Regions from separate parts of the Homo sapiens genome. Here region 2 is linked to region 1. The links come from fine-mapping of genetic effects on gene expression. A gene starts in region 1. The other region holds a variant in brackets. All regions are shown on one strand. Distances are from middle to middle.

The links.
Region 2: its variant is fine-mapped to the expression of TMEM86B in unexposed skin (GTEx, PIP 0.97).

The regions. Positions count from the first base shown.
Region 1 is chr19:55,226,482-55,231,837 of GRCh38, reverse strand. It overlaps TMEM86B (transmembrane protein 86B), which reads left to right and starts at 3,075. Exons shown (of 3, transcript NM_173804.5): 1 at 3,075-3,147; 2 at 3,401-3,647; 3 at 4,275-5,200. The coding sequence starts at 3,097. The coding sequence ends at 4,657. It overlaps PPP6R1 (protein phosphatase 6 regulatory subunit 1), which reads left to right. Exons shown (of 24, transcript NM_014931.4): 19 at 1-36; 20 at 170-240; 21 at 347-428; 22 at 954-1,064; 23 at 1,154-1,225; 24 at 1,307-2,059. The coding sequence ends at 1,310. MIR6804 (microRNA 6804) reads left to right here and starts at 886; the gene lies at 886-953.
Region 2 is chr19:55,255,787-55,261,142 of GRCh38, reverse strand. It overlaps PPP6R1 (protein phosphatase 6 regulatory subunit 1), which reads left to right and starts at 2,126. Exons shown (of 24, transcript NM_014931.4): 1 at 2,126-2,708. RefSeq lists enhancers at 1,489-1,538, 1,619-1,668, 1,699-1,898, 1,904-2,878 and silencers at 1,728-2,022, 1,929-2,208, 2,339-2,438, 2,609-2,668, 3,853-4,046. The variant T/C (reference allele first, on the strand shown) is at 3,057.

The DNA.
Region 1 (5,356 bases):
GGCCAGCCCTCCTGCCCGTGACGCCCTGCAGCTCAGGTGAGAACCGGATGGAACGGGCTAAATGGTGCTGGTATCCCGAGGCCAGGAGGTGGCCATGGGGTCCCCGTCCTCTCATAGGCTCGAGTGCTAACCCTAGCTGCCCCCTTGGGCTGCCTCTCTCGCCTACCAGGTCTCAGGACCCCACACCCCCCTCAGCACCTCAGGAAGCCACAGAAGGCAGCAAAGTCACGGAGCCCTCAGGTGAGCCCCGCTTTGCCCTGCCCACCCGCGGCCCTGGGCAGAGAGAGCAGCCTGGCCAGCTCCGAGCTTGCTGGGAGCTGCAGCTGAGATCTCTTATCCCCCACAGCCCCTTGCCAGGCCTTGGTTAGCATCGGGGACCTTCAGGCCACCTTCCACGGGATCCGTTCTGCCCCCAGCTCCTCGGACAGGTGAGCAGCGAGGTGGGGCTGCCTAGTATCGGGAGAAGTCTTTTCTCCTCTTCGCTGAGGTGGGCTCTGGGTTCATCTTGTCCCTGAGCTGCTCCAGGCCTCCTTTGCAGGACCCCCAGGCGCAGCCTCATGTTGTGCCCCAGCCCCTTGCACTCTGTAGGCTGGTTCTTCTCTTAGTAGCCTGGGATGCTTGGGGCCCTTGAGCCCCAGGGTTGGGAAGGGCTCGTTGGAGGGTGTGAAGGATTGGGAGGGTGAGAGCATGCAGAAGACCCTTTGGGGCTGTCTCAGCCGGCCTCGAGTACCTCCTCCACAGGGACAGGAGGCGGGAAGAGGGGTGCTTGTCTTCCTGTCCAGGGCTGTGCTGTCCCTCCACGCTGAGCCAGCTGCGTCCTCGGGAGGCCCCTCCCCGTGGGGCAGGTGGCAGACACACACCCAGTGAGCCGACTTCAGTCGGGTGGGATGTGAGGGTGTCAGCAGGTGACGGTGGGGGCCACGCTGACAGCCGCACCTGCCTCTCACCCACAGTGCAACCAGAGACCCCTCTACCTCTGTCCCAGCCTCCGGGGCCCACCAGCCCCCCCAGACCACAGAAGGGGAGAAGAGCCCAGAGCCCTTGGGGCTTCCCCAAAGCCAGAGGTGAGCACCAGGGCAGCAGGGCGGGGGGGTGGGGGTGGGGCTGGTGGGGCAGGAAGTGACCTCTGCACATCCCCTCTCTCCCCTGACAGTGCCCAGGCCCTCACGCCTCCTCCGATACCCAATGGCTCTGCCCCGGAAGGGCCTGCATCCCCAGGCTCCCAGTGAGTGTGGCTGCAGCCTCGGGCTGGGTAGGTGGGGCTGGGCCTGCTAGACCCTCACACGACATCTCCCTCTGTTTCCAGATAGCTGCCTGGTGCGGCAGCGGCGGCCAAATCTTCCGTCCTCCCGTGGATCTCCCGGGGTGGGGGCAGGGCGGGTCCCACGATGGCCCCCATTGCCCTCATCACCCTGACACCCCCACATTCTCTCCTCTGGACCCCCAGGAGGCTGGTGCCAGGGAGACAGGCCCAACCCACCCCCATTTGCACTGAGAAGAGAAGTTTTGGAGCGTTGCCTCCTAGAATAAAGATACAGAGAGTCAAATAGAGAGAATGGAGAGAGAGAAACATATATTATATATTATATAGAGAGAGGGAGGAGAGCGAGAGAGAGTGAGGACACCGAACTGGGCTGGCGGCTCCAAAGCACAGCCTTCCCTGTTCCGTCCCAGCGGGAGCTGGTGTTAGGGGTCCCAAGGTTGCCACCCACGTGCCCAGCTGTCCCACGCTGCAGCGCAGACGGCCACGCCCACACCCGGCCTTTTAGCTCAGGTCCACCATGGGGGACGGCCCAGCGTGGGTGGGGGTGCCAGAGGGTCCCGAGTGGGGGCCGTGCCTTTGCCCAGACCCTGCACTTTCAACCAGGCCAGTCCGGCTCTGGGGAGCAGGGGCCTCCCCGGCAACAGCCCCAGGGGCCTTGAGGGTCTGAGGTCCCAGCCCTGTTGCCAAGTGACCTTGTCCCCAGCTCCCTCCTCCCAGGCTGGTGTGAGTGTGCGTGCGTTTGTGCCGAGCTTCTATTTCATATTGCAAATATAAATAAAGGAAGGCAGTTTACGATTCTGCTGGTCAGACCTTACGTTCTGGGATGCGGGGTGGGGAGCCTGTATTATCCCTGCACCCCAGAGGCTGGGGGTGCTCCTGACCCAGTCTGCCCCCACACTGTCCTGCCAGAGGGAGCCCTGTGGCTGCAGAGGCCCCAGGCTGGGCCAGGCACTGGCTGTGAGGGCTCCTGCCAGGTCTACCCCACCTGTGGGCAGGGCCTTGGGCAGAGGATAGAAGCCACCGACAGGCTCAAATCCCTGCTCCTGCCCCTGCTTACCCCCAGTAACCAAGCCCAGCATTGAGGCTGGGTACTGGCGCCCAGTAGGTCTGAGTCTTTCAGGTAGAAGGTAGAAGTGTAGGCTGCGTGTGCAGCGAGTGGCACCGGTGAGCGGCGCTGGGAAACCGGAGCGTGTGGACCGGGCCATGAGGACAGCGTCCTCACTGGGGTGGCAGTTGGCTTGGAGGTCACCTGGGGGCTCGCTCAGCTAACAGGAGAGGGTGCTTGTTCCCCGCATTCGTGGTGGTCCCTCCTGGTCACCCATTGAAGCAGTGTTTGTGGTGGAGCCCCTGAGGGCTTGGTGGGGTTGAGCAGAATGAGGAAAGGTTTCATGGAGCAGGGAGGGAGACGGCTAGGGCAGCAAGTGAAGGACAGACTCGCCTTCCCATCCCTCCAGGGGCACTCCTGCCAGCCAGCCCCTCTCCCGCTTCCCATGATGGGGTGGCTGTTGGAATTCTGCACCCCATCTCTTCTGATTGTTGGGGCCCAGGACAAGGGGACAGGCATTTGTGGGCCTAACCTCCCCAGGCAGATAGGAGGAGGAAGCCATGTCCCAGCAGGCTAGGGCAGAGGGACCCCCAGTGCCAACAGTGCTTTATCAGCGGGCGCCAGGCAGGGCCATCCCCAGGGTGAGGACAACATCTCCCTGGGCCCTGTTATCAGTCACAGAGTCCACAGGACGCTCCTTGGGTTAACGTGTAACCATGAGCCCTCCCCTCCACCCCCTGAAGCCACTCGCTCCCAGATTAGGTCGCTCTGGGGCTATCAGGCCAGCATGGACGCTGGCAAAGCGGGGCAGACCCTGAAGACTCACTGCTCAGCCCAGGTGAGAGCCTTCTGAGCTGTGCCTGGGGCTGGGGGGACAGGGCCCTGGAACCCCAGCAGCCGGCGGGTCTGGGAGCTGCTGTCCTTGAGTTGGTTGGGCCCTGGGAAGCTGGGTTCTGGCAGCCTGGTCCCTGAATGGGTCCAGCCTGTACAGCTGGGGTCCCAGGTGGGGGTGGGACAGGAGCCATGAGATCTGAGTCCCAAGAATGGGGGCTGGGCTGGGTTTCGGCTCAGTAGCTCCCCACTCCCCAAAGCGCCCAGATGTCTGCAGGTGGCTGAGCCCCTTCATCCTCTCCTGCTGCGTGTACTTCTGCCTCTGGATTCCCGAGGACCAGCTGTCCTGGTTCGCTGCCCTGGTCAAGTGCCTGCCCGTCCTCTGCCTGGCTGGGTTCCTGTGGGTCATGTCCCCAAGCGGGGGCTACACCCAGCTCCTCCAGGGAGCCCTTGTGTGCTCGGCTGTGGGGGACGCTTGCCTCATCTGGCCGGCAGCCTTCGTCCCTGGTGAGTGGAAGGTGCTGTGACGCTTTCCAGATGCCCGTGTGAGAGAGGCCCCAGCACTTGGATGGGAGCCTGGGTGCAGAGGGCTCCTGTGAGAGCTCCAGTGGTCAAAGGCACAGTGGGGGGCGCAGCCGTGACCGAGGCAGCTCACGCTCCAGCGAGGGGTGGGGGCAGGCGGTGTTAGGGCAGTAGCTGAGGTGGCGCAGAGGGCAGTGAGGACCTGCTGGAGGTACTGCAGTTTGAAGCAGGGTTGCTGAGGAAGGCCTCACTGAGGAAGTCACATTTGGGCAGAGCTGAAGGGCTGTATGCCTGTGTGGAGGAAGGGCGAGTGTAAAGGCTCCGGGGCAGGGACGTGTCAGGTGCTTGTAGCCCAGCAGGCCAGGGTGGCTGGCGCAGAGTGGCTGGAGAGCTGGAGGCCATGGGGCTTTGGAGGCCAAGGGAAGGTGGGGCCTCCTGGCAGTTCTGAGCAGAGCAAGGATGGACACTGCATGTGGGGAGACCTGCAAGGAGGCTCGGCCAGGGTGGGGCCTGGTGCTCTGGGATGGTCCTTCTCTTAGGCCCTGAGGGGTGACCTCGGGGCCATTCCCAGGATGGGCCTTCCTCACTGGTACCCCACCCCTCTCCCGCCAGGCATGGCCGCCTTTGCCACCGCCCACCTCCTCTACGTCTGGGCCTTCGGCTTCTCTCCCCTGCAGCCCGGCCTGCTGCTGCTCATCATCCTGGCCCCTGGCCCCTACCTCAGCCTTGTGCTCCAGCACCTCGAGCCGGATATGGTCCTGCCGGTGGCAGCCTATGGGCTGATCCTGATGGCCATGCTGTGGCGCGGCCTGGCCCAGGGCGGGAGTGCCGGCTGGGGCGCGCTGCTCTTCACGCTCTCTGATGGCGTGCTGGCCTGGGACACCTTCGCCCAGCCCCTGCCCCATGCCCACCTGGTGATCATGACCACCTACTATGCTGCCCAGCTCCTCATCACACTGTCAGCCCTCAGGAGCCCGGTGCCCAAGACTGACTGACTAGGGAGCTTGAAGGGCCGGTGTTCAGGCCCTCTCCTCCTGCAAGGACCTGGGCCTCCCAGCCCAGCCCAGCCTGAGAAATACCCTCAGCAGCGAAGCTTCCTGACGCCTGTCTGCAGGCGCCGCTGCCGCCGTCGCTTCTGGCTGAAGACGTTTGAGGACGATTTGCGGAATTCCAAGTCCACTACTGGGTTCCAGCTGCCTTCCCCCGGTTCTGACTCCAGATCCCTGGCTCCTCAGCCAGGCCCACATGGAGCCCTCCCAGCCACCAGCCTGCCTCCATGTTCACTGTCGGCCCCACAGCCTGCCCGCCCCCTGCTGCTGCTCTGAATCCGTTTTCCCTGTGGGTGTGGAACCGTAGATGTTGCTGTTACCGTAGGAGAGGCCTCGGGGAGGGTCATGATTGTGATAAACCATCGCGGTTAATGACAGCAGAAGGTTCTTTGTCGCTCCCCATGGACCAGGCCTGGTGCCCAGTGGGACCCTCCATGGCCCTCTGGTGGGGGGATTCGGGGGGATAAAGTGAGGATTGTGCAGAACTGAGCCAAGAGGACTGTTTGGTCTTTGTGTTAGTTTCCTGAGGCTGCTGTCACAAATTACCCCAAGCCAGATGCTTTGAAACAAGATGAATGGACTCTCCTGCAGTTCTGGAGACCCAAAGTCCAAAATCCGGGTGTTTTCCGGCCCATGGTCCCTCTT
Region 2 (5,356 bases), 29 kb before region 1:
GGTTTCCTAGGACAATTTGATGTCAGACTCATTCCTTTTGTGTGGATTGTTCTGGTGGATCTGGGATTTTTGAGTCTATTTGGATTGGTTTTTATCACTCCTCTTCCTAAATCCAGGATAAATTGAGAGGTAGCTGCAGGATCTGAGATCCTGTCTCAAGAAAAAAGTTCCAGTTGTAGTCCCAGCTACTCGGGAGGCTGAGGCGAGAGGATTGCTTGAGCCCAGGAGTTCGAGGCTGCAGTGATCTGTGATCGTGCCATGCACTCCAGCCTGGTCGACAGAGCCAGACCCTGTCTCTTAAAAAAAAGTTTCAATTCTAATGCAAACACAATGTATATCTGTGAGTTCTGCTGGGTGGAAATCCAGACTTCAGTCATTAAAGCCCCCACAGCTTCCCAGCTTCCATTTGAAGGGTAGGGACTATAGCCACATCCTTATCCCTCAGTTCCTGACCTCTGTGTTAAAACAGTGTGGCAATGATGCCATCATATTGTGGAGAAAACAAGGAAGCCAAATGCTGGGTAAAAGACAAAACATCTCTATAGAAAAAAGAGAAAAGGAAATGCCTCTCTGTGATGGTTCATTTCAGGTGTTGACTGGGCTAAGGGATGTCCAGATAGCTGGTAAAACATTATGGGTGTGTCTATGAGGGTATTTCTGGAAGAGACTAGCATTTGAATCGGTAGACTGAATAAAGATCTTCCCTCCCCAGTGTGAGCTGGCATTATCCAATCCATTGAGGGTCTCAATAGAACAAAGAGGGCAAAGGAGGGGTGAATTTGCTCTTTTTTTTTTTTTTTTTTTTTCTCGAGACGGAGTCTCGCTCTGTCACCCAGGCTGGAGTGCAGTGGCCTGATCTGGGCTCACTGCAACATCCACCTCCCGGGTTCAAGTAATTCTCCTGCCTCAGCCTCCTGAGTAGCTGGGATTACAGGCGCACACCGCCACGTCCGGCTATTTTTTGTATTTTAGTAGACACGTGGTTTCACTGTGTTGCCCAGGCTGGTCTCAAACTCCTGAGCTCAGGCAATCCGCCCACCTCGGCCTCCCAAAGTGCTGGGATTATAGGCGTGGGGTCTTGAACTCCTGAGCTCAAGTACAGGCAGGCGTGAGCCACCACGCTGGGCCCTTTGTTTTTGAGACAGGTTCTCGCTCTGTCTCCTAGGATGGAGTGCAGTGGTGCAATCCGGCTCACTGCAGCCTCGGCTCAAGCGATTCTCCTGCCTTAGCCTCCCGAATAGCTGAGACCACAGGCGCGGGCCACCAGGCCCAACTAATTTTTTAAATTTTCTTTTGTAGAGACGGGGGTCTCCCTAGGTTGCCCAGGCTGGTCTCCAACTCCTGGTCTCATGCCATCCTCCGGCCTCGGGCCTCCTAAAGTGTTGTGATTACAAGCGTAAGCCACCGCGCCCGGCCAATTCGGAGTCTTAAAACAAAAACAAAAACAAAAAAGTTCCTCGCGCCCACACGATTTTTACAGTAGGCCTCTAACATGGGTAGAGAGGGGAGCTATTAAAGTTGGGGAAACCGAGGCTCAAAGCCAGAGGGACCTTCATCAATCTAGACACAAGGTCTAGGAGGTCTCTTTCAGTTGATGCTATTAGAAGCTGCTTTGGGCGGAACTGGCAACACCAGCGACCCGGCCGGGACTATCGCCAGCAGACGGAAACGACTGAGGGCCTCTGAGGCTCGGAGGCGGCTAAGCGCGAGAGCCGGACGGAACGAAGGCGCCTGGCTTTGGCTGGAGCGAAAACCAGGTCTGGATTTCGCAAGAGCCCGACCCTGGAGCCAAAGCTCCACTATGATTAGAGGAGACAGAACAGCGAACGGATTTCCAAACGGAGCGAGTGGGAAGGGAAATCCTGGAGCGGAATATTCACGGGGCCTTGGAACGGAGCCGGTGCGCAGCTGCGGCTCACTGAGCTGTCTGGGTTTATTCCGGGGCAGACCGTTGGCACCAACGGGCGCAAGCGCGTCTGCGGCGGCGGGGTTCAAGAGTGGGCGGTGTCGGGAGCGCCCGGGCGCACGCGCACTGCACCGCCCAGGCGTGCACCCCGCCCCCCGCACCTGCGCACCAACACAGCCGCGGGAGGGCGGGGCCTCCTGCGTCGTCCTGCGCTAGGGGGATTGTGGGATAGTGGCGGAGGGAGCCGGGCGTCGGAGGCCCTGAGGCCGGCCGCAGAGCCCGGAGATTGAGCGGCTTTGGGGAAGGGGTGGTTAAGGAAGTAGGCCTCGGCTTCCGTCGGTCGCTGCTCGGCTCTGCGGCCCGTTTGGACCGCGGAGGAGGTCGCCTTCCCCTCCCGTGGGGCGCTCGGTTGGACTGTGGAAACCGGGGCAACTTCCCCCGTCTTCCCGGCTGAGGCGCCTGCGTGGGCCTCGCGACCCGGCTCGCCAACCCGCCTCGGCCCGCACGCCCACCTCGCCTGCGGACCCCGGAGGTGCCTACGCGGACTAGTGACGCCCCCCGCCCGTCGGCAACTCCACCCGGCGCTGACCCCCTCAACTCTGCAGGACCCGGCGCGCGAGGACCCCACGACCCGCGGGCGCCTGCGCGGACCCCGCGAGCCCCGGCGCCTGCGCGAGTCCCCGACGCCGCCCCCGCCCCCACTCACCGGGCCCCGCAGCAGGGGCCGGAGCCGCCGGCGGCGGGGCGGGGGGGGGCGCCCCGATGAGCCCCGAGTGCGAGGAGCCGCCGCCCCCCCTCGCAGGTGAGCGGCCCGCGTCGCCCGACCCTCTCTCTCCAGGGCCAGGCGCCCACGTCTTCCCCTCTCCGCGTCCCCTCAGGCTTTTCCCTCTCGGGACCCCCGCGGGTCTTTTCTGCTTCGGATCCTTTCCCTCCTTCCTTCGGGTTTCCTCTCCACGGCACCCCGTTTCTTCCCCCTCGACCCTCCCCAGTCTCTTAATCTCTTCACCTCAGCTCCGCCGCCACCCTAGTCTCAGTCTCTTGCTCTCGGCCTTTTCCCACTCGCTCTCTGCAGCTGCGCTCCCCAGTCCCTGAGCCTCAGCTCCGCTCTCTTGCCTCTCTGGCCGGTTCCCCGGCCCCCCAGGAGTCTTTC[T/C]CCCTGGTTACCCTGGACTTTGCCTGCTTACACCCTTCCCTCTCGCCCCGATCTCTGCCCCGCCACCTCTTCCGTGGCGCAGCCTCCTTAGATCCCCGGAGCTCAGGACTGGAGGAGCGGGGCTTGTTTTCACCTTGACCGACCCTCTCCCGCCTCCGGCTTCTTGTGCGAGGGACCTGGGAGCGGGGCTTCTCTGGAGCAGCCACCACTCGGGCCTGCTTCAGTGAGATGAAGCCTGCTGAGGGCAGGCAGGGAGCCTGGCGCTGGGCACCGAGGAGGGGGCATCAGCCCTAGGCCCTGCCCTGGAGGTGGGGCCGGTCCCTGGAGGGGGTACAAAGGCAGAGCCGGACAGTCACAATTCCTGCGTGTCGTGATCGAGGTGACTTAGGGAGCTGCAGGGGGCCACAGAGCGGGAGGCACTGGTGAGACTGACTGGACGGACGGCTTTTTCTGTCTAGGAAGGATGAGTAGGAGGTGACAGATGGAGAGTGGGAAGAAGGGCCTTCCGGGGGGGGAAGGAGCAGCACGTGCAGATATGTCAAGGAAGGAAGGTCGGAGTCCTGAGTGCAGATGTATTGGGAGGGTGAGGGGCAGAGTAGTTCCGCCCGGCGTGCTTATCCAGGCCTCGAATGGGACCTCTGGTTGGGGTCTTTCTTGCTCGCTCGTAGTACACACAGACATGACCATAGACACCCGCCTGAAAGGCAAGATGTTTCAGGAAAGGAAGCTGCGTAGACTGTCAGGTGCGGTACTGGGTTCACAGTTGTAGAGAAACTGCAGTGGGATTTCATCCAGCCCAAGGGCGAGGGTCTAACTGTTAGCGTGCGCTGCAAATGCAGCAAGGACTCGAGATTGCCTGGATAACACAGGATGAGGACTTGGTTTACATACATGCACAACACACATGGAGACACGGCGCCCGGCCACGTGTGCTTACTAGTGGTGGGATGGCTGTTGGAGCTGCTTGTGCTGTTGAAAATGTTATGCTTTTTTTTTTTTTTTTTTTTTAACTCTAGTTCTGGGATTGGGATCATGAGAAGGCAGTCCAGCTAATTGTTAGAGGATCTTTTGCCAGACAGACCTAGGCCGAGTCCGGCTTCTGCCAAGCGAGACCTTGGACAAGTTGTTCCTCGTCTGTAAGTGGGGATAGCAGACTGCTCTCCTCAGAGGGTGGATCTAGGGATTAAGTGCAGGGTTTGTAGAAGCCTGTGGCAGAATGCAAGGCACATGACACTCTGCAATCAGTAGCTGTTTTGATGTTGATGATTTTGAGACTGGGTTTTGCTCGTTTGCCCAGCCTTGAACTCCTGGACTCAAGTGATTTTCCCACCTTAGCCTCCTAAGTAGCTAGGACTACAGGCACGTCCTGCAATGCTTGCTCAATTTTTGTGTTTTTGTACCACGCTTGGCTAATGTTTGTATTTTTTGTAAAGACTGGGTCTTGCTCTGGTGCCCTGCTGTGGTGCCCAGGCTGATTTCAAACTCGTGGGTTCAAGCAGTCCTCCTACCTAGCCTCCCAGAGAGCTGGGATTATAGGCATGGACCACCACACCTGGCCGTTCTTTCGATTATTATTTGATTTGGGAATGTCCATTGCAGTGGCTCTCAACTGGGGGCGATTGTGTCCCCTGGGGGACGATTGGCGATATCTGGAGATGTTTTTGGTTGTTACAACTGGGGGGAATGCTGCCAGTATCTGGTGAGTGGAGGTGGAGGCTAGGGATGTTGCTAAGTGTCCTCCAGTGCATGGGCAGCCCCAACACCGAAAAGAACCGTCCAGCCCAAATGTTAGCAGCGCAGAGGAGGAGAACTTTGCTCCACTGCTGGGGTATGGTGTGTCGTTGTGGCTTATTTGCTCTGTTGTGACTCATGAGCTGTGAGTTGGTGAGTTGTGTATTGCGAGTCACCACCATCTTTGTGGCCATTAGCTTTTGTTGGTTCATCTACTGTTTCTTTCCATTAGAGGAGAACCTGCTTGTCTGGTCCCCCTGCCCATTTTTTTTCTTTTGTGGGATGTGTGGCCCAGTGCTCTTAACAGAACACCTTTCTCTGGCTTCAGTTTTCATTAATTCAACAAGTAGCTTTAGTTGGGCCTGGCCTTATGCTAGATCCTGGGAAGTCGGCATGTTTCAGGGGGAGGCAGATGACTGAACAGGTACATCCTGTCACAGAGCCGAGGCTCACATGCTGTTCCAGGGTGACTGCGGGATGCTGTGGAAGCGGCGTGGAGCAGGCCTCTAACACAGATGCGGGGGGGAGGCTCCCTGGAGGAAGTGGTGTCTGTGTGGGGGCCTGAAGGA